Linked DNA regions of Homo sapiens. The protein of the gene in region 3 purifies or fractionates together with the protein of the main gene of each other region. This does not show direct contact. Each region holds a gene or a part of one and is shown on either strand. Other genes may lie near its edges. The genes, in order: CBS, ABHD10, OAT, NEK10, ALDH1B1, TXNRD2 and OXCT1.

What was found.
Region 1: the proteins of OAT (region 3) and CBS fractionate together in Homo sapiens (co-fractionation; one large-scale study listed by BioGRID). This does not show direct contact.
Region 2: the proteins of OAT (region 3) and ABHD10 fractionate together in Homo sapiens (co-fractionation; one large-scale study listed by BioGRID). This does not show direct contact.
Region 4: the proteins of OAT (region 3) and NEK10 purify together in Homo sapiens (co-immunoprecipitation; one large-scale study listed by IntAct). This does not show direct contact.
Region 5: the proteins of OAT (region 3) and ALDH1B1 fractionate together in Homo sapiens (co-fractionation; one large-scale study listed by BioGRID). This does not show direct contact.
Region 6: the proteins of OAT (region 3) and TXNRD2 fractionate together in Homo sapiens (co-fractionation; one large-scale study listed by BioGRID). This does not show direct contact.
Region 7: the proteins of OAT (region 3) and OXCT1 fractionate together in Homo sapiens (co-fractionation; one large-scale study listed by BioGRID). This does not show direct contact.

Annotation. Positions count from the first base shown.
Region 1 is NC_000021.9:43,052,528-43,056,405, forward strand, and holds the end of CBS (cystathionine beta-synthase), read right to left. Parts: intron 3,573-3,878; coding exon of another isoform or gene 3,531-3,572; intron 1,457-3,530; coding exon 1,353-1,456; 3' UTR 664-1,352; downstream 1-663. UniProt on the Homo sapiens protein: Hydro-lyase catalyzing the first step of the transsulfuration pathway, where the hydroxyl group of L-serine is displaced by L-homocysteine in a beta-replacement reaction to form L-cystathionine, the precursor of L-cysteine.
Region 2 is NC_000003.12:111,985,147-111,989,451, reverse strand, and holds part of ABHD10 (palmitoyl-protein thioesterase ABHD10, mitochondrial isoform 1 precursor), read right to left. Parts: intron 3,189-4,305; coding exon 3,077-3,188; intron 2,539-3,076; coding exon 2,401-2,538; intron 1-2,400. UniProt on the Homo sapiens protein: Acts as an acyl-protein thioesterase that hydrolyzes fatty acids from acylated residues in proteins.
Region 3 is NC_000010.11:124,408,685-124,412,989, reverse strand, and holds part of OAT (ornithine aminotransferase, mitochondrial isoform 1 precursor), read left to right. Parts: intron 1-789; 5' UTR 790-818; coding exon 819-1,017; intron 1,018-4,024; coding exon 4,025-4,249; intron 4,250-4,305. UniProt on the Homo sapiens protein: Catalyzes the reversible interconversion of L-ornithine and 2-oxoglutarate to L-glutamate semialdehyde and L-glutamate.
Region 4 is NC_000003.12:27,366,351-27,371,341, forward strand, and holds the start of NEK10 (serine/threonine-protein kinase Nek10), read right to left. Parts: upstream 3,034-4,991; 5' UTR 2,875-3,033; intron 2,869-2,874; exon of another isoform or gene 2,681-2,868; intron 1,213-2,680; exon of another isoform or gene 1,173-1,212; intron 1-1,172. UniProt on the Homo sapiens protein: Plays a role in the cellular response to UV irradiation. Mediates G2/M cell cycle arrest, MEK autoactivation and ERK1/2-signaling pathway activation in response to UV irradiation.
Region 5 is NC_000009.12:38,395,256-38,399,520, reverse strand, and holds the end of ALDH1B1 (aldehyde dehydrogenase X, mitochondrial precursor), read right to left. Parts: intron 3,782-4,265; coding exon of another isoform or gene 3,773-3,781; coding exon 2,219-3,772; 3' UTR 860-2,218; downstream 1-859. UniProt on the Homo sapiens protein: ALDHs play a major role in the detoxification of alcohol-derived acetaldehyde. They are involved in the metabolism of corticosteroids, biogenic amines, neurotransmitters, and lipid peroxidation.
Region 6 is NC_000022.11:19,921,140-19,925,444, forward strand, and holds part of TXNRD2 (thioredoxin reductase 2, mitochondrial isoform 5 precursor), read right to left. Parts: intron 1-4,305. UniProt on the Homo sapiens protein: Involved in the control of reactive oxygen species levels and the regulation of mitochondrial redox homeostasis. Maintains thioredoxin in a reduced state. May play a role in redox-regulated cell signaling.
Region 7 is NC_000005.10:41,729,175-41,732,410, reverse strand, and holds the end of OXCT1 (succinyl-CoA:3-ketoacid coenzyme A transferase 1, mitochondrial isoform 3 precursor), read left to right. Parts: intron 1-640; coding exon 641-682; 3' UTR 683-2,346; downstream 2,347-3,236. UniProt on the Homo sapiens protein: Key enzyme for ketone body catabolism.

The DNA.
Region 1 (3,878 bases), on a different chromosome or scaffold from region 3:
TGTTGGTGAGAATGGAAATCGGTGTGACCAGTATGGAACACAGCTTGATGGTTCCTCAAAAAATAAACATGGACGCCGGGCGCAGTGGCTCACGCCTGTCATCCCAGCACTTTGGGAGGCTGAGGCAGGTGGATCACCTGAGGTCAGGAGTTCAAGACCAGCCTGGCCAACATGGTAAAACCCTGTCTCTACAAAAATACAAAAATTAGCCAGGCACAGTGGTGCACACTTGTAATCCTGGCTACTCGGGAGGCTGAGGCAGGAGAATCGCTTGAACCCAGGAGGTGGAGGTTGCAGTGAGCCGAGATTGTGCCATTGTACTCCAGCCTGGCAACAGAGCAAGACTCCATCTCAAAAAAAAAAAAAAAAAAAAATTAAACATGGAGTTACCACATTAACCAGCAATGCCACTCCTGGGTACACACCCAAGAAAAGTGAAAAGAGGTGTCCAGACATACTCGGCCATGAAGGTGCACAGCAGGTTACTCACAAGGGCTGAAAAGCAGAAACAACCAGGTGTCCATCACCGATAAATGAGGAACCAAAATGTGGTCTATCCACACAATGGCTTATTATTCGGCCACAAAAAGAAACCAAGTACACGTGCTCTGACATGCCTGAAAATACCATGCAAAGTGAAATAAGTTAGACACGAGGCCACAATTGTGTGATTCCATTTATATGAAATGTCCAGAACAGGGAAAACCTATTTTAGACAACAGAGACACAAAGTCGATCAGCAGTTGCCAGGGGAGGAGGAAGACGGGAGGGGAAATGATTGCTTCACGGGGTGATGACAGAATGTTCCAGAACGTGACAGAGGTGGTGCCTACACAACTTTCTGGATGTACTAAATGCCGCTGATTGTTCACTTTCAAGTGATTGATTTTTAGGTTATTTGAATTTCATCTCAATTAAAAAACCCAAACACGCAAACTGCTCCCGCCAGCTCAGCCCCGAGCAGACGGCGCAGCCCGTGGAGGATGCTGAGCCACCCAGGCTTCTCCCCGCCCCTTCCTGGACTCTTCTCTCTTTTGCCTTTAATCCACTCTGCGCAGTCATTGCCTGTGTTCATCCTACCTGGCCGACTTCTCTCTCAATATTTCCTTGGTGAAACATCCTAAGAGGAAGTTACATTAGAGAAAATCACATATTTCATCTCATAGGCCGTAAACAGGGCCATTTAGGAAGCCATGTGTTAACGAGGGGAGACGGATGCTCTGTGCCGTGTGCAGGGATAACGGTGCCAGGCCAGGCAGTTACCAATCACGCGTGTGTTTAGGGCTCAGGAAAGCGAAGGAGAAGTGGGCAAGGGTGGCGGGCCCGCTCCGCACCGCCCAGCGCTCCGGACTTCACTTCTGGTCCCGCTCCTGGGCGGCCACGAAGTTCAGCAAGTCAATGGCGGTGACCACCCCGAACACCATCTGCCGCTGACTGGACTTCCCGGTGCTGTGGTCTGAGGGGAGAACGAGGCAGTGGGTTTGCAGGTGCCGTGGGAGGCTGGGTGGGCTGCTGCGGGGCAGGAGGCTCCTGAGGGCCTGGGGCACCTGTGCACCATGGGGGCCCAGGGTGGCTGGAGCCCAGCGGCGAAGGCTGTGTTCCTTTTTTTTTTTCTGAGACAGGGCCTCACTCTGTCCCCTAGGCTGGAGTGCAGTGGTGCAGTCTTGGCTCACTGCAACCTCCACCTCCTGGGTTCAAGTGATTCTCGTGCCTCAGACTCCCGAGTATCTGGGACTTCAGGTGCACATCACCACACCCAGCTAATTTTTGTATTTTTAGTAGAGATGGGGTTTTGCCATGTTGGCCAGGCTGGCCTTGAACTCCTGACCTCAAGTGATCCACTTGCCTCGGCTCCCAAAGTGCTGGGATTACAGGCGTGAGCCACTGTGCCTGGCCAAGCCAGTGTTCTTCTGACATGAGCCCCATGAGCCCCCAGGCCAGGTTCTACCCACCACGTGAGTCCCCTGGGCCCCAGGCCAGGCTCCACCCACCGCAGGTCAGGACACACCCTTCCCTGGCCCACCGGCTGAGCTCCTGAGGCACTCATGACTTCAGAGCCGGTGTGGGCATGAAATTCAAACCCGCTTACAGGGCCGGGCACAGTGGCTCACACCTGTGATCCCAGCGCTGTGGGAGGCCAAGGTGGGAGGATCATTTAAGCCCGGAAGTCTGGGACCAGCCTGGGCAACATATTGAGACCCTGTCTCTACAGAATATTTTTAAAAATAAATTAGTCGAGCATGGTGGCACACGCTTGTGGTCCCAGCTACTTGGGAGACTGAGGCAGAAGGATCAGTTGAGCACAGCAGGTCGAGGCTGCAGCGAGCTATGATGGCACTACTGCACTCCAGTCGGCAACAGAGCAAGACCCTGTCTCTAAAAACAGACAAAAACCCCTTGCCACCATGGGCAGCACACAGCTTCCATCTCTGGCCTGATTCTGTCTTCACCCCTCCTGCTTTCTCCTGGCAAGCGTAGACCCGGTGTTAATGCTGGCCGAGGCTCCCATGCCACATACCCAGACAGGGCTGTTGTGATGGTTAATTTTAATACAGATTAACGGGGCCGTGGGAGCCCAGGCATTGGTCACACGTCGTTCTGGGCATGTGTGAGGGGATTCCGGATTAGCACAAGAGTCAAGAGGCAGATAACGTGTGCTACTGTGGAGGGCCTCACCCAAGCAGTTGAAGGCCTGAATAGAACCAAAGGTGGAATTTCCTGCCTTGGGGCTTGAACTGCTGGCTCTCCAGTCTCCGGCCTGCCGCCTCACCCTGCAGATCTCAGGGTTTGTCAGCCTCCGTGATCTCATGATCCAGTTCCTTAACACAGATCTCGTTCCCTCTCTCTCCCCGCTCCCCACACATCCTCTTGGTCCTGCGTCTCCACAGGACCCTACACCAGCTGTCATGAGGCACAGAGGGGTGAGCAAGGTGCGGGTGAGGAAGAGCCCTCGGAGCCCGTCCCAACTCCGCCACGGCTGTCACTCCTCTCTTTGTAGGCAGAGGTCCCTTGGGGTGGCCCACTTAGAGCCCCAGGAAAAGATAGGGAACACAGATGAGATCAGCTCCTTGCATTTTGGGGAAACGGAGGCACAGCAACTGTTGGAGAAGGGAGCCCTGGGAGCCCTGAGTGCCGCAGGCTTCTGTGGCCCTGGCAGCTCGGCCCAGAGTCAATGGACTAGGGCCAGCCAGGGGACTTTCCGACAAGGGCCAGCTGGTGGTATTTTAGGTCTTGGGGGCCGTGCCGTCTCTGTTATGAGCACGCAGCCCTGACGTGCTTGAAAGCAGCCACAGACGGTGGTGACAAGCGTGGACATGCTCCAGGAAGACTTGATTTGGGGACCCTGACATTGGAATTTGCATCTTTTTTTTTTTCTGAGATGTTCAAACACAAGTAAATGTGAGATTAAGAGGGGGATCCCTCCTACCCAAGCTTGGGGGTGGGTCCAGGACCCTGGAAGGCCTCCATTTGCCATGGGGAGGCTGTGAATCTGAGCCTGAGAGCCATTCTGAGGGGTGGGTGATACCTACCTGCAGGCCCCCCCACCACGCCTGCCCAGGCCTGGTCCTGCGCTGCAGAGCCAAGGACGGGAGATGGGGTTAGACTTGGGGCCCTCACGGACCAGCCTCAGCCACCGAGCGCTCACCCCCTGCACACAGGCCTGGTGGGTGGGCAGGCTCCAGGCTCCAGGGCCCCTCCCAACTCTTCCTGTGGGCCCCAGGCCCAGGGCTGCCATCTATGACCCAAAACCTGCGAGCGACTCTCCTGGCCTGTGGGGATGTGGTGGGGACGCCCGGGGATGCGCTCAGGAGTTGCAAAACCTCATGAGCTTGCTGGGAGCGGGGCTCTGAGGACAGCCCATCAGTGGCTCCTGTGAG
Region 2 (4,305 bases), on a different chromosome or scaffold from region 3:
AAGTTAACTTTATAAAATGTTGTATGTCTCAAGTCCTCAAGAACAAAAAGTTCAGAAACAGCAAAGACATTACCCAAAGAAAATGTACAATATATTAAGTTCTACATCAACAAAACTTATCAAGGCAATGTGGTTCAGAAGCTTACATTCCCAACAGCTGTGCATCATGTCTGAGGCCCTCTAGTGTCCAAAGAAGGTGATAATGATTAGAGTCAGTTAAAGAGGATGGTCAAGTTCTTAGAGAAGAAATGAGAAATGCTGGGCTTACTATTCCCAGGGTTATAAAAGATAGTAAAAATCTCCACATCTGCTCCGTTGACATTGTTAGGGCTAGCTGTTTATGTGGAGAAGAGATAGCGGTCTTAGTGTTGGTGCTCTTTCCTTATACATGCTTTTAAGTTAACCAAGGGCTCAACATGCTTCTGTTAACAACTGCTTATCTGAGTAAGTATTAGCAAAAAATGCCTTGATTTGCAGATTATAAATCTTCTCAATTAGAAAGTATCTACCCTATGCTCACTCTGACTGATGTGAACACACACACACGCAGAGAAATGTACATGGCCAGGCACAGTGGCTTGTGTCTCTAATCTCAGCACTTTGGGGGTCCAAGGCAGGAGAATCTCTTGAGCCTAGGAGTTCAAGACCGGCCTGGGCAACATGGCGAGACCCCATCGCTACAAAAAATACAAAAATCAGCCAGGCATAGTGGTGTGCACTTGTGGTCCCAGCTACTCAGGAGGCTGAGGTGGGAGGATCTCTTGAGTCTGAGGGGTCAAGGCTGCAGTAAGCAATGACTGCACCACTGCACTCCAGCCTGGGCAACAGAGATACCCTAAAAACCCCCCCAAATAAAAACAAAACCAAAACAAATGTACACAGGTTTTGTCATTTACCAATAATTACAAAATACAATAAACCCCCAACCCCCAAAAATCAACTCCTTTTCAATCTGCTATGTCTTTGAGATAATTTCCTACCCAAGAAGCGCTGTATTATTGAGTTAAGAGGATGGAGCAAGGAGTCCACATTTAGATCCACAAAATGTCAAAGGTGGGAAAAACATGAAGACATTGAGCAACTATGTATGAGAAACCACCAAGAAAGTGAACAAAATTCAGAAACAGGAGATAAGTTCAAGGAAGACCAGCTTTGTAATTTCAGCTCTGATAGGAAATAATATGAGAAACCTGAATACACACACAATGCTATTTCTTAAGGAGCTTAAAACAACGTGAACTAAGAATGAACTTAGTTAATATATGGCACAGGTATTAATGCAGAACTTGAGGCAAATCAATGACATTCTACTATTCAACACTGCATACGTTTTTTCTTCTTTTTTTTTAAATTTCTGAACCTCCTTCTCCTCTTCCCCCATTCTCTAAAGCATTGTTCTCAAACTTTACAAGAGGTTTGTTAAAACACAGACTGCTGGGCCATACCCCCAGTTTCTGATTCAGGGTAAAACCCAAGAATTTGGGTTTCTAACAAGTTCTCAGGTGCTGCTGCTGCTGCTAGCCTAGGGACCATATTTTTTAACTACTGCTCTGTTTTCTTTAATTTCTGTGTCTCTGTCACTCTGACTGACAATATCTGTCTGGAGAGTTCTGTTGGGAGGAACTGAGGCTGCTTTTAGGCTAAAACAAAGACAGTCAGCTCTCCATATTCATGGTTTCTGCATCCATGGATTCAACTAACTTTGTATCAAAAATATCTGGAAAAAAAAGGTTACCTCTGTATTGAACGTGTACAGTCTTTTTTTCTTGTCCGTATTCCCTAAACGATACAGTATAGCAACAATTTACATAGCGCTTACATTGTACTAGGTATTTTAAGTAATCTGGCAATGATTTAGATTATACAAGATTATGTGCAAATACTACACCATTTTTTTTCTCAGAGACTTGACCATCTGTGGATTTTGGTATCCATGGGAGGTCTTGGAAGCAATCCCCTTCAGATACCAAGGGATGACTGCAGTTTCAGTTCATTAGCCCACTCTAACATAGTCATAAGAACAGGCACTACTCCCCATATGCCACAAAGTAAGAGGACCAAAAGGAGATCACGATGTATGATTCAAATAAGTAAATGTAATAATAAAGAAAATGTGGCTAAAAAAAAAGAAACTTCAAAGTGTGATATTGTTAATGTGTCTCAAATATTTGGCAGAATGATTTGAAGAGACTATGAAGAAACGAAATCTTAAACAAGATGACAAATAGTTAAAGATAGAAAAGAGGTTGTGTACAGAAAGGCAGCTAAGACAAAAGTTGGGCCAGCACAGTAAGTCAAAGGAATTATTGTTTTCTGTCCCCCCTTCCCTCAAAGAAAGAGGGAGCAGAAGAAGTATAAGCGGTAAATATATTGAGGTGGCAAAAGTGACTTTTGACTTACCTCAACAGGAAGCTGATTAAACTTTGTCACTAAGGTATCTGCAGCTGTAGCTACACCAATAAGAGCCACGACCTTCTCTGGTCGTGCAATTGCAGCATGAAGCATAAGCCACCCTCCAAGGCTAGATCCAACAAGAATCTAAAAATAAAATAAAATAAAACATTAGGTCTTTAAGATAGAACAGGTTATAAACATAAAACAAAATATGTACAATAAAAAATTAGAAAGTAAAAATAGAATCATTTTAAATCAAATATCAAAATGGATTAAACATTTAAATTAAATAAAAACATTTTCATATCTAAAGAAACAGCTTAGGCCGGGTGTGGTGGCTCACGCCTGTAATCCCAGCACTTTGGGAGGCCCAGGCGGGCGGATCACGAGGTCAGGAGATCGAGACCATCCTGGCCAACACGGTGAAACCCCATCTCTACTAAAAATACGAACAATTAGCCGGGCGTGGTGGCGGGTGCCTGTAGTCCCAGCTACCTGGGAGGCTGAGGCAGGAGGATGCCGTGAACCCGGGAGGCAGAGCTTGCAGTGAGCCAAGATTGCGCCACTGCACTCCAGGCTGGGTGACAGCACGAGACTCCATCTCAAAAAACAAAACAAAACAAAACAAACAGCTTAAATACGAGGTTACAGTAATTATCATCATACTTAACAAAACAGTCACCTGTGGCCCATCAGCTAAGTCATCAATTATAGAAAGAACATCTTTTCTCCATTTCCCCAGTGTGCTTTCCTCTGAGTTACCATCTGAACTTCCAACTCCTGAGTAATCAAACCTGGAAAAAGGGGAAAAAAATCTATATCTAAATATCTATATATCTGCTTCTTTAATTTTTAAGAAAGATAGCACCTTCCTCATTACTATAATGCTTATAGTGAAACATCACAATCAATATGTATTTTAGCAAATTCTATTGGCTTATTAACTTTCAAATACCTCCTGTGTCCAATCACTTTCTCACCTCCTCCACTGCTACCAGCCTGTTGCTAGTCACACTGTCTCTCAACCTAACTGAATGCAATAGTCTCCTAAAAAGTCTCCTGTTTGCATTTTCACACTCATTGTCTTTCCCTATATAGTAGAGTGATCCTTTTAAAACAAAACCATGTCTTGCAAACCCTCCAAAGGCTTTCTATAATCTTTAAATCCAGAGCCCTTACCATACTTTGGTGCCTGATCACCTCTCTGATCTCATTTCTCATTGTTTTCTCTCTCTCCCTCCCTCCCTCCCAACTGTATCTTCGCTTTGCTTCTTGAAGCTCCCATCTCATCAGCTTTTCTCTCCACATGGCATACTCTCCTCCAGATAGCCATTTAGATTGCTCCCACACTTCATTCAGGCCTTTGGCTCAAATATTACATCCTCAGAAAAGCCTCCCATGACCATTCAATTATTAAAACTGTGCTGCTTTCATCATTCTCTAATTCTTTACTCTGCTTCATTTTCTTCATAGCACTTATTACTACTTGAGATATATTTGATTATTTATGGTCCATCTCCCACATTAGAATGAAAGTTCCACATGGGCACAAGCTTTGTTTCAATGCGTTCCTAGTGCCTAGTTCAGTTCCTTGCGAGTGGTAGGTGCTTAGTGTATATTTAGTGAATTGATGGAAGGGAAGGAGACCAGAATAAAATTCATCATCACCAACCCATCCCTTTCTCCTTCCAACTTCCTAGTTATCTAGGCTCAGTTATCTGTCTGATCTATGAATTTTACCTCTCCTTAAGGGTATCAAATCAATAAAAAATCATGGTGGTATAAAGTATCATACCACACCCACAGGTTACCTAAACTCTAGTCATACTGAACTACTCCTAATTCCCAGTTACACCCTTTTATAACTTAGAGCCTTAGCATGCTGTTCTGCTGCCAAGAACAGCTTCCTCC
Region 3 (4,305 bases):
TAGTCTCTGGCAGTCTTCTCTGATTTGGTCTCCCTGCCTCTGGTCTCTGCCCTACAGTTGTAGCTGTCTCATAGCATTGTGCCTGATGGTATCGGACTGTGGTAGGTGCTTAACAAATACTTAGTGTTTAGCAGGTACTCAGTCAACACACAGTGCATTAGCTCTGGAAAGAGTCTTACTCTTATTGATTGGTTGGTTGATTGATTGCCTGATTGACAGGGTATCACTCTGTTGCCCAGGCTGGCCTCAAACTCTTGGGCTCAAGTGATCCTCCCGCCTCAGCCTCCTGAGCAGCTGGGGGCTACAGGCACAAACCACCACACCTGACTCAAGATTCTCACTCTTTTTTTTTCTTTTATAGAGACTATGTTGCCTAGGCTGGTCTTTAACTCCTCGGCTCAAGCGATCCTCCCATCTTGGCCTCCCAAGGTGCTGGAATTACAGATGTGAGCTATCACGCCTGGCCATTTTTTTTTTCTTGAGACTGGGCCTTTCTTTGTCTCCCAGGTTGGAGTACAGTGGCACAATCTCAGCTCACTGCAGCCTCAACTTCCGGGCTCAAGCAATCCTCCCACCTCAGTCTCCTGAGTAGCTGGGACTGCAGATGCATACCACTACACCCAGCTAATTTTTCAATTTTTTTTAGTGATGGAGTCTTGCTCTGTTGCCCAGGCTGGTCTCAAACTCCTGGGCTCACGTGATCCTTTGACCTCAGCCTCCCAAAGTGCTGAGATTATAGGCATAAGCCAAGGATTCTCACTCTTAATGCATTCTCTTTTCTTTGGACAGATCTGTGGTTTTTCTACTTGAAGGACACAATGTTTTCCAAACTAGCACATTTGCAGAGGTTTGCTGTACTTAGTCGCGGAGTTCATTCTTCAGTGGCTTCTGCTACATCTGTTGCAACTAAAAAAACAGTCCAAGGCCCTCCAACCTCTGATGACATTTTTGAAAGGGAATATAAGTATGGTGCACACAACTACCATCCTTTACCTGTAGCCCTGGAGAGAGGAAAAGGTACGTTTCAAATTAATCCGTCTTTTCCCTTTTCTTGAAACCTTTTATAAAAAAAAATTGCTTCCATATTTTCACAATATACATTTTTCTAGATGTGTTTAATGTGTATATTGCAGACATGGTTAATTCTTCTTCTTCTTTTTTTTTTTTTTTTTTTGAGACGGAGTCTCACTCTGTCACCCAGGCTGGAGTACAGTGGCACAATCCCAGCTCACTGCAACCTCTGCCTCCCAGGTTCAAGCGATTCTTCTGCCTCAGCCTCCTGAGTAGCTGGGACTACAGGCGTGCGCCACCACACCCAGCTAATTTTTGTATTTTTAGTAGAGATGGGGTTTCACCATGTTGGCCAGGCTGGTCTCAGACTCCTGACTTTGTGATCCTCCCACCTTGGCCTCCCAAAGTGCTGGGATTACAGGTGTGAGCCACCACGCCTGGCCAGTTAATTCATTTATTGAGTGTCTAGTGCTGCTGTGTTAGGTGCTATGGAGGCTTCAAAGAGGAACCATTGTCTTTGTCATGTAGACCTTACCAAGAGGGAATGCAAGAGAAATAAGGAAAGTACTATCATATTGCTGTCATTTTTTTCTTTTAACTTTTATTTTGGCATAGTTTTAGACTTAAGAAAAGTTGTAACAAATAGTACTGACATTTTCCTTTTATACTTCTCCCAGATTTTCCAAGTGCTAACTTTTTGCTGCTTTGGTCTTAGTGTGTTCACTCCCTTCTCTTCTCCCCCCGCCGCCTGCATATTCTACATTGTTTTCTGAACTGTTTTGAGAGGAAGTTGCAGACATGACATCTCTTCTTCTTTTTTTTTTTTTTTTTTTTTTTTTGAGACGGAATGTCGCTTTGTCACCCAGGCTGGAGTGCAATGGTGGGATCTCGGCTCACTGCAACCTCTACCTCTCGGTTTCAAGTGATTCTCTTGCCTCAGCCTCCCGAGGAGCTGGGACTACAGGCCCACGCCACCACGTCCAGCTAATTTTTGTATTTTTAGTAGAGACAGGGTTTCATCATGTTGGCCGGGCTGGTCTCGAACTCCTGACCTCAGGTGATCCACCCACCTCAGCCTCCCAAAGTGCTGGATTACAGGCGTGAGCCACCGCGCCCCGCCACATGACATCTCTTTACCCATAAATACTTAGTGTGTCTTTCCAAAAACGCAATGACTTTTTGAGATAGGGTCTCATTCTGTTGCCCAGGCTGGAGTTCAGTGGTGTGATCATGGCTCACTGCAGCCTGGAACTCCCGGCTTCAGGTGATTTTCCCACCTCAGCTTCCCAAGTAGCTGGGACTACAGGTGTGCCTTACCATGCCTGGCTTATTTTTTGTAGAGATTAGATTTTGCTATGTTGCCCAGGGTGATCTTGAACTCCTGGTCTCAAGTGATCCTACCACTCAGCCTCCCACAGTGCTGGGATTGCAGGTGTGAGCTACTGTGCCCAGCTGACTTTCTCTTTTATAACCATAGAGTAATTGTAAAAATCAAGAACTTAACACTGGTACAGCACCATTAGTCTAGAGACCTAATCCAGATGTCATTTGTTCTCTTTTATAACAAAAGAAAAACCTCCGATGAGTTGCATTCAGTTGTCATGTTTAGTCTTCTTTAACCCAGAACAGTTCCTCAATCCTTGGTTGTCTTGGTCTTCTTTCCCTTTGTATTAAGTATCTTGTGGGGACAGAGTGTAAAACTCTGTAAATATCCAGTTACTCATGAACTTTTACTCACAATTTCAGCATCCACTAATGATTCTTGCCTGAATAAATGATTACGGTGGTAGTTGCCAAATGGTGATTTAATCTACAATTTGGAATAAATAACAGCCTTAACCAAATAAAACCAAAGTTTATTACTTAGCTTTGTACCAGAAAATGACAATATAAGAGTATCACACATTTTGGTCATTTGCTTGTATTTTATTTGGTACCAGTACTGTAGACATATCTTCTTTTGAACTATTGAAAATCTGTTTCATATTACATGACATGGCAACCTTGTTTTTACTTTCCCACTAGCAATGTATGAGAGTGCCAATTTCTTCAGATCCTTGTCAAAAGTTGTTTTTTTAATTATAACCATCCCAGGGAGTATGAGATGGTATCTCATTGTGGTTTTAACTTGCATTTTCCTAATGATTAGTGATGTTGAACATCTTTTCATGTGTTTCTTGCCATTTGTATATCTTCTTTGAAGAAATAGCTATTCAAGTCTTTCCCCATTTTTTAAATTGGGTTGTTTGTCCTTTTGAAATTGAGTTGTAAGAATTCTGGATATTAGATCCTTATCAGACACATGATTTACAAATATTTTTTTTCCATCCTAAGGGTTATTACAGTCTACTTCTCATGATTTTTGTCTGTTATGTGTAACTTCTGCTTTTTTATTTTTAAATTTTATTTATTTTATTTTTTTTTTTTATAGGCAGGATTTTGCTCTGGTGCCCAGGCTGGAGTGCAGTGGCACAATCTCAACTCACTGCATCCTCTACCTCCCAGGCTCAAGCAATCCTCCCACCTCAGCCTCTGTAACGGGACCATACGCGCGCACTACCATGCCCAGCATTTTTCTGTAGCGTCAGGGATTTTGCCGTGTTGTCCAGGCTGATCTGGAACTCCTGGGCTCAAGCAATCCCTGCCTTGGTCTCCCAAAGTGCTAGGATTACAGGCGTGAGCCACGGCTCCCTGCCTAACTTCTGCTTTTAAATTCTAATTTTGGATCCTAAATCTTAGAATTAGGTAAAGGTTTTACTCCAGAGTTTATAACCTTTTTGTGTTATTTTTGTTAAATGTGTGTTTTGAAGCTGGGCAGATAAAATACAATTCTTAGTAATTCCTTACAAACCAAAGTTTATTATGCCTGAGCTAAAACAAGCTTTAACTACAAATATGTATTAAATAGAGGTTCATATATAGGCATTCAGAGGGCTTGCTAGCACTCTTAATTTTTGGACTTTATGCCGTATAGTAATTGTCTAAAATTATTTTCCTTTCTTATGTATTTTAGGTATTTACTTATGGGATGTAGAAGGCAGAAAATATTTTGACTTCCTGAGTTCTTACAGTGCTGTCAACCAAGGGCATTGTCACCCCAAGATTGTGAATGCTCTGAAGAGTCAAGTGGACAAATTGACCTTAACATCTAGAGCTTTCTATAATAACGTACTTGGTGAATATGAGGAGTATATTACTAAACTTTTCAACTACCACAAAGTTCTTCCTATGAATACAGGTAAAACATTTCCTTTTTTTGTTAAATACCCTCAAAAATAATCTTTTTATTTTTTG
Region 4 (4,991 bases), on a different chromosome or scaffold from region 3:
AAGAGAATAGTGCCTTTGTTTTGTTCACTGCTGAAGGCCCAGGTGTTCAATAAATATTTGTTGACTGTCTGGATGAACTTCCAGCTCCTCTCTGCCTATCCAAGTGCTCAACCCAGTTCACTTTGACTTCAGCCTCAAAGCTTGACTGGCTGTGACAGGCAGAGTAACATTCCAGGCCCTTCTTCCACCTCCTGAAGACTTTATTTGTTGCACTGTCTTTTGGCTCACCCTCACTGGGCATGGAGCCCCAAACCCATTAGATGGTCAATAAATACTCACTGAATGATTGAGACTCAGAGCTGTATCAGAGCTGTCGCCAAACACAAAAGTTTGTGATCAAGTACTATAACAACAGGATGGTGTCCTAGAAATTGCACTTGACTGAATCAAAAGATTGATTTTTACCTTTTGTAAACTCACCATGACAATTTCACAGCTCTAGACTTCAGTGTGTTCATTTTTTTTTTTTTTTTTTTTTGAGACGGAGTTTCACTCTTGTTGCCCAGGCTGTAGAGCAGTGGCGTGATCTTGGCTCACTGCAACCTCCGCCTCCCGGTTCAAGGGATTCTCCTGCTTCAGCCTCCCAAGTAGCGGGGATTACAGGTGTGCGCCACCATGCCCAGCTAATTTTGTATTTTTTGTAGAGATGGGGTTTCACCATGTGGGCCAGGCTGATCTTGAACTCCTGACCTCAGGTGATCCACCCACCTCATCGTCCCAAAGTGCTGGGATTCACGGCATGAGCCACCATGCCCAGCCCAGTGTGTTCATTTTTAAACGTGAAAGCTTACTATATATAAAGCACTATACCTTTGGTATGAATTATGTACATATAATCTTTAAAAGAATCCTATGAGCTAGGTGCTATTATACCCCCATTGTGCAGATAAAGAATCTGACTAGAGGCTAAGTAATTTGTTATGTGTTACACAATTAAAATGCTAGAGCTAGGATTCAAACCCATGTATGTATGACTCCAAAGCTTAGCTCTTGCACACCATGCTGTACTGTCTCTCTCTTTACCATTTTAAGCTTATGTCATATAATAACAGCTACCGTGATAATGATTATGGCTTGAACTATAAACTGTGAATTGAAGTAGTTTCCAATTACTAAGGGTCTTGAAATTAAAGTAAAACCTGTACCTTTTATAACATTTTTTCAATATTTACCTTTTATAAGCAAAAGCTTCATTGGCCATTTCTGACTTTTCTGGAAGAAATAAAGATACCATGGCAAACAGTAACTTCTCATTTTAGAGATTCAGTCAGTTAACAAGTATTTGTTGAACACCTGTTACGATGTCTTGCACTGGGCTAAATGCTGGATATATATAACAATAGTGACTGAGACAAAGATGGTCTCTGCCGTCACAGAGGCAGTCCAGAGAAAGAAACAGTAATCAAGCAACATACAGAAAATGATTGGGGAGTGAGAGCAGGAGTGTGGGGGTGCAAAAAGGAAAGTCCATTCCAGGCAGTGTGAGCAACAGGTGAGATAATTACACACAGGAGAGAATGTGACATATTCTGGGAACAATCAAGATGGAACTGCTGATAGAAGGCCTAACTAAAGATTGGATTAGGGTAATGGGGAATCATTGCAGGACTTTAAGTAGGGAAGGGAAATGCCCTTATGTGCGTTTTAAAAAGATCAGTTTAGCCGGGCACGGTGGCTCACGCCTGTAATTCCAGCACTTTGGGAGGCTGAGGCGGGTGGATCACCTGAGATCAGGAGTTCGAGACCAGCCTGACCAACATGGTGAAACCCCTTCTCTACTAAAAATACAAAAATTAGCCAGGCGTAGTGGCTCGCGCCTGTAATCCCAGCTCTCTGGAGGCTGAGGCATGAGAATTGGTTGAACCCGGAAGGCGGAGGCTGCAGTGAGCTGAGATCGCTCCACTGCACTCCAGCCTGGCAGCACAGCAAGACTCCTTCTAAAAAAGGAGTCTTTTTTAGAAGGACTCCATATATATATATATACACATATATATATATCAGTTCAACAATGGTGGGGAAAAAAGTGGATTGGATAGATAGGGCCAGACTAGAATCGGAGAAGCCAGATGGGTGTTGAATTTAACCAACCGATGGTGGAAATTGAGACAGTAAAAATAGAGATGGTAATGTGGGAATTGATTCAACACCTATTAAGAAGGGATAGTCTTGATAATTGATAGAGATGCAGAGGAAGCAGCAGTAAGTGTCATGGATGTCGTCTAGAGTGTAGTTTTTGAAAGCTGAATGGATAGTGATGCCCAAAATAGGGAATCCAAGAGCAGCAGCAGACATGGGGAAGATGGCGTTCAGGGTTGCACATGTGTGGCGTTAACTTGGCAGCTGGATTTTGGGGTCTGACAGTTAGTAGAGCAGGCTAGGTTCCAGTTGGAGACTTTCTAATCATCGTCAGATAGATGGTGCCTGAGGCGAGGAAGTGGAAGGGCTCACCGAAGTAGGGCAGAAAAGCAGAGGGGCAAAGTCAAAGCAGCATCCTGTAAGGAGAAGGCAGAAAAGCGACGCTCATAGAGATGAAGAATGAACCTCCAGAGGCGTCGGAGCAGATTGGAAGAGACACATTCAGGCTCCATTTAACCAGAATAATTCCGTTATCAAAATGGAAGCGCCAAGAAGCATCGTTGATGGCGCTTTCCCACCATCCATCCGTCCAACACAAACCCACCTGCTTTGAAAAGACTGCCTCACGCAGTGACTCACTTACCCACCACAGCCGCATTCTCTACCTCTGCCTCTTGTCTAGTGAAGCTGGCTCCCGAGGCTTCGGGGCCGCTCCACAGGGACCTGAGGACGTCTCCCCGGAGACCCTGACTCAAGCTGCTCGCCGGCACAGCCGAGCACCGGCTCCCGCCTACTCACCGCGCGGGAGGGACGGTCCCTCCTTCAGGCCAATCTCCTTATCATTGTCCCTGCTGCTGTCACCTGCTGCTGCAGACCGGGGGTCCCGTCCAGTCTCAGCCCGTCCCGTCCTCCCCCCAGCCTATTCCCGGTCCCCTCAACCTCAGGGACACCGCGGCCAGCTGCACCGTTGGTTTTCCAATCAAATCCTCCTCCAGGCCACCAACCAGCGCTGGCCAGGCCAATGCCGACAATTCTTCCTCCGCCACCTGGGGCGCCTCAGCCAATCGGGAGCAGCCATGCTGCGCAGTGCAGAACGCCATAGCGACGGATGACGCCTGCCGGGGAATCGCCGTAGCAACCAGAGACGCGCTAGATCCACCACCAAGCTTGCAAGCAGAAGAGGCAGCAAGTGATGCTGAAGGCTGTGCTGCAGCCACTTCACCGGAACCTAGAGCTACCTGTGAACAGGTCTCCTACACGTTGAAGATTTTTCTGGATTTAGGGTGTCTAACCTTTGATGGGAAAGGGCAGCTTCATCTTGGAGTGTTTACTTTCAAGAATTGCTATGGGCTAAAAATCAATTCTCTTTAAAAGCAAAGATTTAATCTGATAAGGAATCAATGCAGCATGCTAAATACCTTTCATATGGCATGAAAACGTCTTCAGTTACTCAAGCCACAGGCAATGAGAATAAGGTGCCACAGCACCGTATTTTTCACAAAAAGAGTGACCTGGGATTCAAGAAACCTGTATAGTATAACTATCGCCAGTTCGTTTTGTGGCTTTGGGCAAGTCACTTCACCTTTTGTGAAAGTCTGGAGCTTCTTTAAAATTTCTGAACTGCATTAGATAACGCTTTAAAAATATACCTGACATTCTGTAACTTTAAATAAATGAAAAATGCCAATCTATTAAGTGCTTAATTTTGTGCCGGGCACGATTTCAAATTCTTTCCTTATTTCACTTAGTTATAAAATGGAGGCACAAGAAGTTTCCTAAGTAGTCCAGTATGGCAGAGCTAGTGATGGAGTCAGGGTAAAACCTACTTCGAGTCTGGTCTTAACCACGATGATGCTCCTTCGACGATTTCTTCGAGTACTGGGCCCTGTTCAACCTCATCTTGGTATCACTAAACGCTCGTGTGTGTGTCTGGTGGTTACATCTTCCCAAACTGGATTTTAAATGAATACAGTGAACCCTAACGTTTTTCTGGTGTGGATAGTAAGTAGGCCCATTGGATTAACAATACTTAAGCTTGGGTAATTGAAAGCATTTTTTAAAATGAAGACGGTCCTATTTTGGAAATGCAGAAAGGCGAGATGAAAGCCAAACTCTGGTGAGTATAGCAGAACTAATTAAACTTCAGAGATCTAAAACAATCAGGATTAATGTTACCAATAAAACAAAACAAGGTGACGGGGCAGGAAGACCGATGCTGAGTAGAAAAAGTATTCTGTACATACATTCTAAATGTTAAGCAGTCGGCCTGGCTTGGTGGCTCACACCTGTAATCCTAGCACTTTGGGAGGCCGAGGCAGGAGGACCACTTGAGGTTAGGAGTTCGAGACCAGCCTGGCCATCATGGCCAAACCCTGTTTCTACTAAAAACAGAAAAATCAGCCGGGCATGGTGGCACATGCTAGTCCCTACTACTCAGGAGGCTGAGGCACAAGAATTACTTGAACCCAGGAAGCAGAGGTGCAGTGAGCCAAGATCATGCCACTGCACTCCAGCCTGAGAGACACAGCAAGACTCTATCTCAAAAAATAAACATTAAGCAGTGAGACATGACTGCACTGAACTTCTCATCTTCACCAGAATACCAATTGTGCTTCCCATCTTTCCACTACTCAGTAAAATTAAAGTCTTAAACTAATGTTTTGGCCATCCCAGAATATTCCTGAACTTCCCTGAAAGCTGCAGCGATTAAGAGGCAAGAATGACACTGCCTCTAAAAGACACATACACTATCATCTCAAATGTTAAGGGTCCCTCTGTAAAATGACACAAAATAAAATCCCACAAGAGATCTTGCACCAAGCTTATAGCTTATATAGCAAGGCTCAAAACTATGAAAACATATTTTTCTAAGGCCTTTTTTTAAATGAAATGCATAACGTAAATTATACAGTTCA
Region 5 (4,265 bases), on a different chromosome or scaffold from region 3:
ACTCTGAACCCTCAAGCAGCAGTTTCCAGCCAAACCCAAGTTATGATAATAAACAAAATCATCATGTTGCCTAGGTAAGACAATAGGATGTTTAAGAGTTGACTGGGGCCAGGCATGGTGGCTCATGCCTGTAATTCCAGCACTTTGGGAGGCCGTGGCAGGAGGGTTGCTTGAGACCAGGAGTTTGAGACAAGCCTGGGAAACATGGTGAAACCTCATCTCTACAAAAAATACCAAAAAAAAAAAAAAAATTAGCCAGGCATGGTGGTGAGTGCCTGTAGTCCCAGCTACTTGGGAGGCTCAGGTGGGAGGATTGCTTGAGCCTGGGAAGCAGAGATGAGTGGGGTGTGCATTTACAGGAATGGGGGGACTTGAACGTAAGGTGGCTTGTAAGCAGCATGGTCTAGAAAGATGGACCGAGAGAGGGAGGCTCAGCATTCTGCTTCTGTATTGTGGCCTGGCTGGCTTGGATTTGCCTTCACTCCCATCAGTTGGGGAATGAATGTAGCAAGACTAACAATAAACATTATGAACTCTGAGGTTTGAAACTCTGGAAATCCCCAGCATGTCAAGGTGGCCCCCATGCTAGGCTTGGCTTGAAGGGTGGGTATGGTTTGGAAGGGGTGGGGGGCTGTGGAAACGAGTCCAACAAGATGGGCCCATTCTGAGCAGGAACCAGAGTTTTTCTCTACGGGTCTTACAGTTGCACTTTGTCACCCATCCAAGAGAAAACAAAAACAGAAACATTGGGGAGGGGACTTTTGCACCTGACTGGGGGTTGACTAGACCACCTGGGTCCCTTCCATCCCCCACACTCTATAAAATGTTCAGCAGCAGGACAATATGGAGACAAAATGGATTTGCTCACAGAATGTATACGTTTATTTTTTAACGGAGTTAATTCATGGCCGGGTGTTGTGGCTCCCACCTGTAATCCCAGCACTTTGGGAGGCTGAGGCGGGTGGATCACCTGAGGTCAGGAGTTCAAGATCAGCCTGGCCAAAATGGTGAAACCTCATCTCTACTAAAAATACAAAAATTAGCCAGGTGTGATGGCATGTACCTATAATCCCAGCTACTCAGGAGGCTGAGACAGGAGAATCGCTTGAATCTGGGAGGCGGAGGTTGCAGTGAGACGAGATCACACCACTGCACTCCAGCCTGGGCGACAGAGTGAGACTCCGTGTCAAAAAAAAAAAAAAAAAAGAAAAAAAGAAAGAAATTAATTCATATACCATAATTAAACAATTCCATAGTTTTTAGTATTTTTACCAAATCATGCAACCATTACTATTGTTCAACTCCAGAACATTTTCAAAACCTCCCAAAAACAAATCCCATGCCCACTAACAATTACTCCTCTATCCCCTGGCAACCACTAATCTATGTTCCATCTCCATGGATTTGCCTAGTATGTATATTTCATATAAATGGAATCATACAGTCTGTAGCCTTGTACATCTCTCTGGCTTGTTTCACTGAGAAGGATGTTTTCAGGGTTCACTGATGTCACAGCATGTGTCAGTACTTCATTCCTTTTTATGGCTGAGTAATCCAAGGAATATTCCATGGAAACATTTTATTAATCCACTCATCAGTTGACGGACATTTGGGATGTTTGGGCTTACTTTACAGGTGTAATCATGTAAGCATATTCTTTGCCTACTCCTTCCCACAAATTAAGGAAAATCAGTAGCAAAATGAAGGGCAAGCAACTAAAACAGCCAGCAACTGGCACACAGACAAGGAAAAGCACCTCTGGTTTTTAGGTTAAGCCAATGAAGAGTGGGGCCGAGATTTAGTATCCACCTAGTTCAAAACCCCTAACACTTTCCAAGCTTGTGTTCTGAGTTGAGTCGATCCACTAAACCATCAAGCGCACCCATGGGAAAGTCCTTGGATCAGCAGGAAGAGCTACAAATTACAGATCACTGGTTTTTAATCTGTCCTCCAGAGACTCCTAAGATTTCATGGAAGCAACTCATGGGCCACCAAGGGGGCTGTGGTTGGGGGTTAGATAGGTAGAACTCTGAGCCTGGTCCCCATCTCTGATTTAAATAGAACAGCCTTGATTGAATTGCTTTATTTGTGGGGTTTCTTCTAAGAGTTAATTTGGAACAAAGAAAGGGTGTTCTTGGCTTTAAAACAGCTTGGCAAGCATTCGTCAAGGTGGTTGTGGAATTGCTGGACTGTGACTGGGCCTCCCTGACAGCTGCTCTTACGAGTTCTTCTGAGGAACCTTGATGGTGACCGTCTTTACCTCTGTGTAGGCCTTAAGCCCATCCTCACCCAGCTCCCTCCCGTTTCCAGATTCCTTAAACCCTCCAAATGGCGTGTGGCAGGTGACGATGTTGTAGGTGTTTACCCACACGGTCCCGGCCTGGAGTGCCTGGGTGAAGTACATGGCCTTGTCCAGATCCCGGGTGAACACAGCCGCAGCCAGGCCATACCTGGTGTTGTTGGCCCTCTCAACCACCTCCTCAATCTTCTTGAACTTGAACAGGGGCTGCACAGGCCCAAAGATCTCCTCTTTGGCAATTCTCATGTCATCCTGCACGCCACCAAAGACAGTAGGCTTGATGAAGAAACCACGCTCCCCGAAACGCTCTCCGCCACAGAGGAGTTTTGCGCCCTCCTTCTGGCCAAGCTGGATGTAGCCTAGGACTCGTTCAAACTGCTCCTTGTCCACCTGAGGCCCCTGCTGGGTGTCCAGCTCAAAGGGGTTCCCCACTTTCCTCTGCTTTGCTTTCTCCACGGTTCTCTCGAGAAACTCATTGTAGATGGATTCTTCCACGAAGGTCCGGGAGCCAGCACAGCAGCACTGGCCCATGTTGAAGAACAGGGCTTCGTGGCACTGCTCCACGGCATGCTCCATGTCAGCATCGGCCAGCACGATGCTGGGGCTCTTACCACCCAGCTCCAGGGTGACTCTCTTGAGGTTGGAATCGCCAGCTGCTTTCTGGATCAGGTGGCCCACCTCGGTGGAACCGGTGAAGGCAACTTTGTCAACATCCACGTGCTGGGCGATGGCCGCACCTGCTGTTGGGCCATACCCCGTGATGATGTTCACCACCCCAGGGGGAAAGCCTGCCTCCTTGATGAGGGAGGCCAAATACAGGGCAGAGAGGGGGGTCTGCTCTGCCACCTTCATAACCACAGTGTTGCCTGTGGCGAGTGCCGGGGCAAGTTTCCAACCCTGCATGACCAAGGGGAAGTTCCACGGGATGATCTGGCCACAGACACCAACGGGCTCATGCCGGGTGAAGCAGAAATGCTGGCCATCCATGGGGATGGTCTTGCCATGCCACTTGTCAGCCCAGCCAGCAAAGTACCGATACACCTTGATGACCTCATCCAAGTCCAAGGCGTAAGACTCTTGGAAAGGCTTCCCATTGTCCAAGGTCTCGAGTGAGGCCAAGTAGACTCGATCCCGCTCCACTAGGTCTGCCAGGCGGTTCAGCAGCCGGCCCCGCTCAGAGGCATCCATCCGGCGCCATGGGGACCCCAGGCGGAAGGCTTCCCGGGCTGCTTTCACGGCCCGATCCACATCAGCCCGGTCACCTTCAGCCACGTGCCCAATGACCTCCCCGGTGGTAGGGTTGACCGTCGGGAAGGTCTTCTTGCTGACTGCATCTTGCCATTCATTGTTGATGAACAGCTGGTTGTAGGGGATGTCTGGGTTCAGAATGGGGCTTGGGAGGGCTGCTGCCGAGGAGTAGCGGGCGGTCCTGCCCTGGAGGCTAAGCAGCCGGGGTGCCAGGAAGCGCAGCATGCTGACACTCTGGAGAGGGACAAAAGAAACCAGGGTGAACAGGTGGGAGAAGGCAGGTGGCGGTACCCAAGGGCCCACCAGCTCAAACATTTCAAGATTCCAGCATAAAGGACTGTCACCTCTAAAAACACAGACTGTAAGAGCTGTGAGGGCCCTGATGAACTCTCTGGGCCAACTCCATCACGTCCCGCCTATCCTCAGCTCACTCCCTCACCTCTGCTGGGTCTCAAAAGCCACTGTCTCAGCAAGGCCTTCCCTGACCACCCTTTAAAAAATTGCAACCCTTCCCACCCCAACACTCTCTATCCCCGCTACCCTGCTTTACTCCTTCTCTATCTCACATCCCAAATACTATCTTTACAGGCTTATATGTTTGTCTGTCTCCCCCCAGTAAAATGCAAGCTCCATGAGCACAGGAACTTATTTTTCTGTTCCATTCACTGCTACGTCCCCGAGCCTAGAGGTATGCCTGCTACAGAGCAGCGGCTCAACA
Region 6 (4,305 bases), on a different chromosome or scaffold from region 3:
CACAGTGGCTCACGCCTATAATCTCAACACTTTGGGAGGCCGCAGCAGGCAGATTGCTTGAGCCCAGGAGTTTGAGACCAGCCTGGGCAATATAGCAAAACCCTGTCTCTACAAAAAATACAAAAATTAGCTGGGTGTGGTGGCATGCGCCTGTGGTCCCAGCTGCTCGGGAGGCTAAGGTGGGGGGATGGCTTGAGCTTAGCAGGTGGAGGATGCAGTGAGTCAAGATTGTGCCACTGCACTCCAGCCTAGGTGACAGAGCAAGACCCTGTCTCAAAAAAAAAAAAAAAAAAAGCCAGTGTGCCAGTGTGTAACTCCCACATCTGACCACGATGGAGCAGCAGGGCCCAGATTTACCCTCCCCCTGAAGCAACCCAAAACCCAGGTAAAATGCATGAAACAACGGGCTTTCAGGTACTCCATGTCAGGTAACAAAGGACCTGAGAGAGAGGAAACAAACATGGTGAGCCCTGGGGAGTCTCCAGGACCCAGCACTGCAGGCTGGGGAAGATGGGGAGAATCCAGCACAGGAGAGGGCTGAGAACTGGGGGAGACTGAGGCAGCCAGAGGTCATGCACAGAAGACAGTGAGGAGGGGGCTGCCCAGAGAATCTGAGAGATCTGATCGGCGCATGTGTCTTGGGAAACTACCTGAGACCAGACAGAACCACCTGGAAGGACTGGAGGGGACAGAGCCCACACAGGGCAGGGGACAGTGCCTGTTCCCAGAATCTGGACTGGGAAAAGCATATAATTCCTGGGGCGTTGGGTCATGCCCCAGTAGTTGAGAATCATTAGCCCTAGACTGGGCACTGCTCCATACCCACCTAACAAATCTTTTGCAGAAGACCCAAAAGGATCAAACTGACTCTTAATAACTGCATCCCAGAACAGAGCTCAATAATAGTATTTCTAGAAATACAAAAATGCCCAGAACCCAACAAGGTAAATTCAAGTGTCTGGCATTCAACCAAAAATTACCAGTCACACAAAGAAGCAGGAAAATACACCTATAAAGGGGACAAAAAAAAATCAGTCAATGGAGACTGACTTGGAACAGACACAGATGTCAGAATTAGCAGAAAAGATCAATAAAACAGGTATTCTAACTATTCCATACTTTTTTATTTTTATTTCCTTGCTTAGATGCCTCACTTGTGTGCCCTAACTCCACCTTATCACATATGATGAACTATCTGTTCATGTGTCTGTCTCGGTAACTAAACTGCAGAACTCCGTCAGTCAGGGGCTTTGGTCCTGGTTTGTCTTTGTTGTTCCGGGTCCTGGCCCAGAGCTTGGACCACATTAAGTATTCAAATGGTTTGTTGAAGAAATTAACATGTTAAAAACAAACCTTTCTCACAGAACACTGTTCCTCCTTCAGTGTTCAAGATCCCAGACCTTTGGGTCCCTTTTTACCTACTTACTCCCTACCAAAAGTTCTCTCTCCTTCGACTCCAGGGTGGTTTTATAAACCTCTTATGCATCTCAACTTGCACTATATGGTAGCTACTTTTCACAGCTACAGACTTTTGGTGTGGGAAGGATCTTTTTTTCTCTTTTTTTGAGATGGAGTCTAGCTCTGTCACCCAGGCTGGAGTGCAGTGGCGTGATCTTGGCTCACTGCAACCTCCACCTCCTGGGTTCAAGCGATTCTCCTGCCTAAGCCTCCTGAATAGCTGGGATTACAGGTGCGCACCACCATGCCCGGCCAATTTTTTTGTATTTTTAGTAGAGATGGGGTTTCACCATGTTGGTCAGGCTGGTCTTAAACTCCTGATCTCATGATCCGCCCACCTCGGCCTCCCAAAGTGCTGGGATTACAGGCGTGAGCCACCATGCCCGGCCAGGAAGGATATTATATGCAATTTGTTCTACCTGCTTACCTGAAGTTTGAGTCTCCTTCATAACATCCTCACCAAGTGTTCACCTATGCCTGGTGCCTTTGTCTGGGAATGTATTGCCTTCCCAAGTGGCCATTTAATTTTGGGAACTCTCCCAATATAAAATTTCTCCTCATATTAATTGGAAATGTTTTCCTATAACTCTTAACTATCTCCACCCCCTCTCCCACATGCCCACTCTTTAAAATTTAAAACTATTTTTTTCCTTTCCCTTAAGTTTTCTCTTTTTGAATTCCTTCAATGATGACTTTCAAGGATAGATTCCTTCAACTAGGATAGTTTAGGTCACTTCTCTCCAAATGACCCACCTTCTCCAAACCTCTGTTCAGAAGGGGCTGCGATGCTCCCAGTAGGAAGTCTGAGGCCCTAAAAATGGGCAGCTCTCGACCTGTCCTGGCTCTGGGCTGTATCAGCCTTGAACTCGGTCACATCAAACATCTGACTTATAGAAGTTAACAAGCAGACTGGGCGTGGTAACTGACGCCTGTAATCCCAGCATTTTGGGAGGCCGAGGCGGGCAGATCACCTGAGGTCAGGAGTTCGAGACCAGCCTGACCAACTGTAGTTTCACGACCAGTAGTGAAAGCTCGTCTCTACTAAAAATACAAAATTAGCCAGGTGTGGTGGTGGGCGCCTGTAATCCCAGCTACTCGGGAGGCTGAGGCAGAAGAACTGCTTGAACCCGGGAGGCAGAGGTTGCAGTGAGCCGAGATGGCACCACTGCACTCAAGCCTGGGCAACAAGAGTGAAACTATGTCTCAAAAAAAAAAGTTAACACAGCATTCACTGAAACCCCTGAGGCTTTTTTTTTTTTTTTTTTTTTTCAAATCTTGTGGACTTCTGACTGGTACAACTGCAGCTGCCTTGCCTGGTAACTTGGGTACCTGGTTTGTGGGTCCAACTGCAGGCCATTCAGGTAGACTTGATTTTTTTTTTAATTTAAAAAAAGGCTTTTTTTTCTTTTTTCTTTTAAAGAGACAGAGTCTCACTTTGTTGCCCAGGCACTGGTGTGCAGCGGTGCGATCACAGCTTGCTTACGCCTTGACCTCCTGGGCTCAAGCAATCCTCCCAGCTCAGCCTCCCAAAGTGCTGGGACCACAGGCACACACCAACGCCCAGCCCTCAGTGGTTTTGATGGATTAGTGTATCCCCAGACCCTCCGAAGGGGAGGACAGTGCCTTATCTCTCTCTTTCTTCCACCAAGAAGGCCACAACCGGCCTTTTAACCTTGATCCAAGCGAGGCTGAAAAGCAAACAGGGCGTTCATCTTCATCCTTTATAGCCACATAGCCACATCTCCCGCCCACAAGCAGATTCCACCACCCCCCGCACCCTAAGGCCCAGCCTCATCAGCTGCAGCATCTTCACCTGGCCTTTCACACTGAAGCAGAAGGGGTGACGGTTTACTTTCAGCTGCATGGTCTCCATCATACCCGTAGACCCAACAGCTGAGCTTCCCCTCTGTCCCTTCTCCTCAGCTCACTGCCCCACTAGCCATTCTGCATGTTCAAACAGTGCAGGAGCAACATGGAAGATATAACCAAAGGCTCAAGCTGGATTGTAGAGATGAAAACTACAATACAGGAGATGAAAAATACACTGGACGGGATTAATGGCAGGTCAGATGTTGCAGAATCTTTTATTGGTGGGTTTGAAAACATAGGAATAGAAACTATCCAAAATGAAACGCAGAGTAAGAAATGTTTCTAATGAAAAGAGCATCAGTAGGTTGTGGGGAAGCTTCATGCAGCCTAATATACATGGAATTAAAAGTCCCCACATGTGAGGGGAAGAAGGAGGGACTCAAGGCCAATGAAAAGAGAAAATCCTAAAAGCAACCAAGACACACTACAGAGACACTAAGATAAAAATAGTAGCAGATTTCTCACTGGAAACAATGCAAGCCAGAAGTCAGAGGGGCAAAATTTTTAAAGTACTGAAAAAAAAAAAAAAAGCGGGGGGCCAGGCATGGTGGCTCACGCCTGTAATCCCAGCACTTTGGGAGGCCAAGGGGGGCGGATCACAAGGTCAGGAGATCGAGACCATCCTGGCTAACACGGCGAAGCCCCGTTTCTACTAAAATCACAAAAAATTAGACGGGCATGGTGGCATGCGCCTGTAGTCCCAGCTACTCAGGAGGCTGAGGCAGGAGAATGGCGCAAACCCGGGAGGCAGAGCTTGCAGTGAGCTGAGATCGCACCACTGCACTCCAGCCTGGGCGACAGAGCAAGACTCCATCTCAAAAAACAAAACAAAACAAAACAACAACAACAAAAAAGAAGGCAAAATAAAGACGTTTTCAGACATACAAAAGCTGAGAGAATTCATTACCCCCAGAGCCATATTACAAGAAATGCTAAAGGATGCCCTTAAGGTAGAAGAAAAATACCAGATGGAAATGT
Region 7 (3,236 bases), on a different chromosome or scaffold from region 3:
CGCAGGAAAGCATTGACTGTTTTATACACTGAACATAATTATAATCAACATTTAATTGTTTTAATGCTATTACTTCCATATTTTAATAACTTGGAATCCTCTTATTGCCTTTGTATCATTTCTATTCTGATTATGAAATTTCCGATAAGATTTATCATTGATCATACGTCTCTTCATTAATATGTATTTAGGTAATCCAAAGATTACATAAAGCATCTTTCAACAAAATTATGAATTGGCTGGATCTATTTTGAGGTTTTGGAGACTTGGGGTTTGTACTGCGTCTTAAGTGAAGTCTCAGAGGCATCAGTCTCGGAGATCAGTGATCCATCTGACAGGGGGCTTGGTTATTGGGATCCTTTGTTTTCCTCTGCTCCTCTTCCACCTGCTCCTTGTTGCCAGCCTTGTTCATCCTTAATTTAGGAGCTAATACAAGAAGGTTGAGAACTACAAAATACCCAAAATGTAAACAGAACTGTTCTGTCTCAATGTTTCAGGATGGAAAATCATATGGAAACTCCAGGGAATGTCCATGGCAAGGCTGCTTGTTGCCTACATGATTGAAATTTGGAAATTAAAAGGAGAGAGATTTATATCATGCAGTTTTTCATAATTTGATTTTTTTTTCCTCTTTTACCAGGTTTCACCAAAACTCATGCCAATGCAGCAGATCGCAAATTGAAATATGGATATTTGTACCAGGCTGCGTGTTTTTCATTTTAAACACACAAGATTTAATTGAAAGGACATCAATAATCATAATTGTGTATTTAACAGGTGGTTTTTTATTAGTTTTCTTGTGTTTCAGACTTTATGCAGCCATATAAACTGTTCTCTAGGCATGCTGTGACATTTTAATAAAAAGCAAAAGGAGCATTTATAATTATCTCATTTGTTAAGGCTGAGAAGGTTGTTTTTATAATAGGTAATTATATTGAATGCATTTTCACTGAATATGGTATGTATGCTAAATTATATGAACCTTTCCCCAAGAAGGGCCCTAGAAATTGATGTGGCTTTCCTCTTAAATATTAATTATTAGTCCTGAAAGAAAGATAACATATGTGATTTTTGTGGTTAGGAGAGTTGCTGTCATGATTGTTTTTTCTTCAGCCTCCTCTGACTTTTCTTTTGGGGCTTCAGATTTTATGATTACATCTTGTCCCCCTAGAACATCCCCCTTCCTCCCATACTGCTTTTAAACAGATGCCCAAGAAGGCAAGCAGGAATGCCTCTTGTGGGGGAGGGCAGGGAGAAATAACTAGTTCAAACCAACTATCTATCTATGCTTTGCAAAGACTAAGGCGTATTATAGGAAGAGGGCTAGAAACCTAACTGATTCTTCTCAGTTTTCTCATTTTAAAACAGCCCAGTATTCCTTTGTATCCTCAAGGGTCCTTGAGAATACTTCTGTTATTGAGACCCTGTGGGCTACTTGTACTGTACCTCCTCTCAAGCCAAGAAGGGCTGTGGGATAATTTACCATGAATCCTTAGTAGCAATGACAGCAGAGTTAAAAAATAAAAGGTGTTTTACTTTCAGGCTCTTGTTTTGGTTCAGAGGAGATTTTAAATATTGAATGACACTTCTACAGAACAACGGTTTTTCTTCTGCCAAGGCTACTTCCTTTAACGAAGTGCCTTTAATTCAGCCTTATCCAACTAGGGAAAATAATGTTGGACAAGTCTAGGATTTGAAGAGTCAGTGAACTTTTAGTGTCAGGGAATAAACATGGTGGGTAGATTAGGTTTGAAAAAAACTTCCTTAGAGGTATTTATTCTCAATACCTGACAGGGGCCCATGGGAATGACTTCAGAAGCATCCCGGATAATAGATGGGTAAAAAGTCTAGGCACCCTGAAGAACAGGTGAGACAGCTGGCCTCTGGACAGAGGTAGGCATAGTACAGTACGATATATCATTCCTCTGGTCCTAAATATACAAACTTATTCATGTTTTTAGGTGATGATGGTCATTGAAACTCACTTCTTTTCAGGTGTAGCTACAATTGTGTAATGTACAATATTAGAGAAAGGACAGGCTTTTTATGAGTAACACACACCATATATAAAACAGCCTTTCTGGCTGACCACATGGTTAAATGCATACCTTCCCAGTACTGGGGGGAAAAAATGACCCTTCTTAGAATGTGCAAGTTCCATGAGAGTAATATATTGATATGATTTTGAAAAGAATTGTTGATAGTTACATCTTCAAACTTATCATTCCAGTATGCATCTTTAAGATAATGTGATTCTAAGTAGATGACTTTATATTCTTGATTGAAGAGTGCTATACATGTTAAGAAATGCATTAAGGAATACAATAAATATTCTAAAGTGATGTAGATCAGTGTGACTGTCCTTTATTTCACTTGGGAATGGCATTGCTAAATGTGGGAATAATGCAACAGATTGTCAGGGTAGCTAACAATAAAGTCAGCACACATCACCACTTCTTTTTTTTTTCCTTTTTTTTAAATTATACTTTAAGTTCTAGGGTACATGTGCACAATGTGCAAGTTTGTTACATATGTATACATGTGCCATGTTGGTGTGCCAACATGCTAATGGTGTGCCATTAACTCGTCATTTACATTAGGTATATCTTCTAATGCTATCCCTCCCCCCTTCCCCCACCCCATGACAGGCCCCGGTGTGTGATGTTCCCCTTCCTGTGTCCAAGGGTTCTCATTGTTCAGTTCCCACCTATGAGTGAGAACGTGCGGTGTTTGGTTGTTTGTCCTTGCAATAGTTTGCTGAGAATGACGGTTTCCAGCTTCATCCATGTCCCTACAAAGGACATAAACTCATCCTTTTTTATGGCTGCATAGTATTCCATGGTGTATATGTGCCACATTTTCTTGATCCAGTCTATCATTGATGGACATTTGGGTTGGTTCCAAGTCTTTGCTATTGTGAATAGTGCCACAATAAACATACGCACATCACCACTTCTAGTCAAGTTGTTGCTTTTCTTTTTATCTTACCAGAGAAAAGATATTGTTCTTCTAGAAAGATCAAGTGAACATTGAGTTTCACAACTTGCTCCTTGTCAGAGGCTGCTATGTTTACAAAAATCATTTATCCAAGGCTTCATGTGTGAATCCTTGTTCACTTTTTGTGTAACATTTTCCTTTACTGTACACATTAGTTGCCTGGTGCTGTGAGTTTATTTCCATTTTGAAGTGGCTCTAGTGGTAGTCTGCTCAGCATCTGTTTTGCTGCTCCTCTGGTA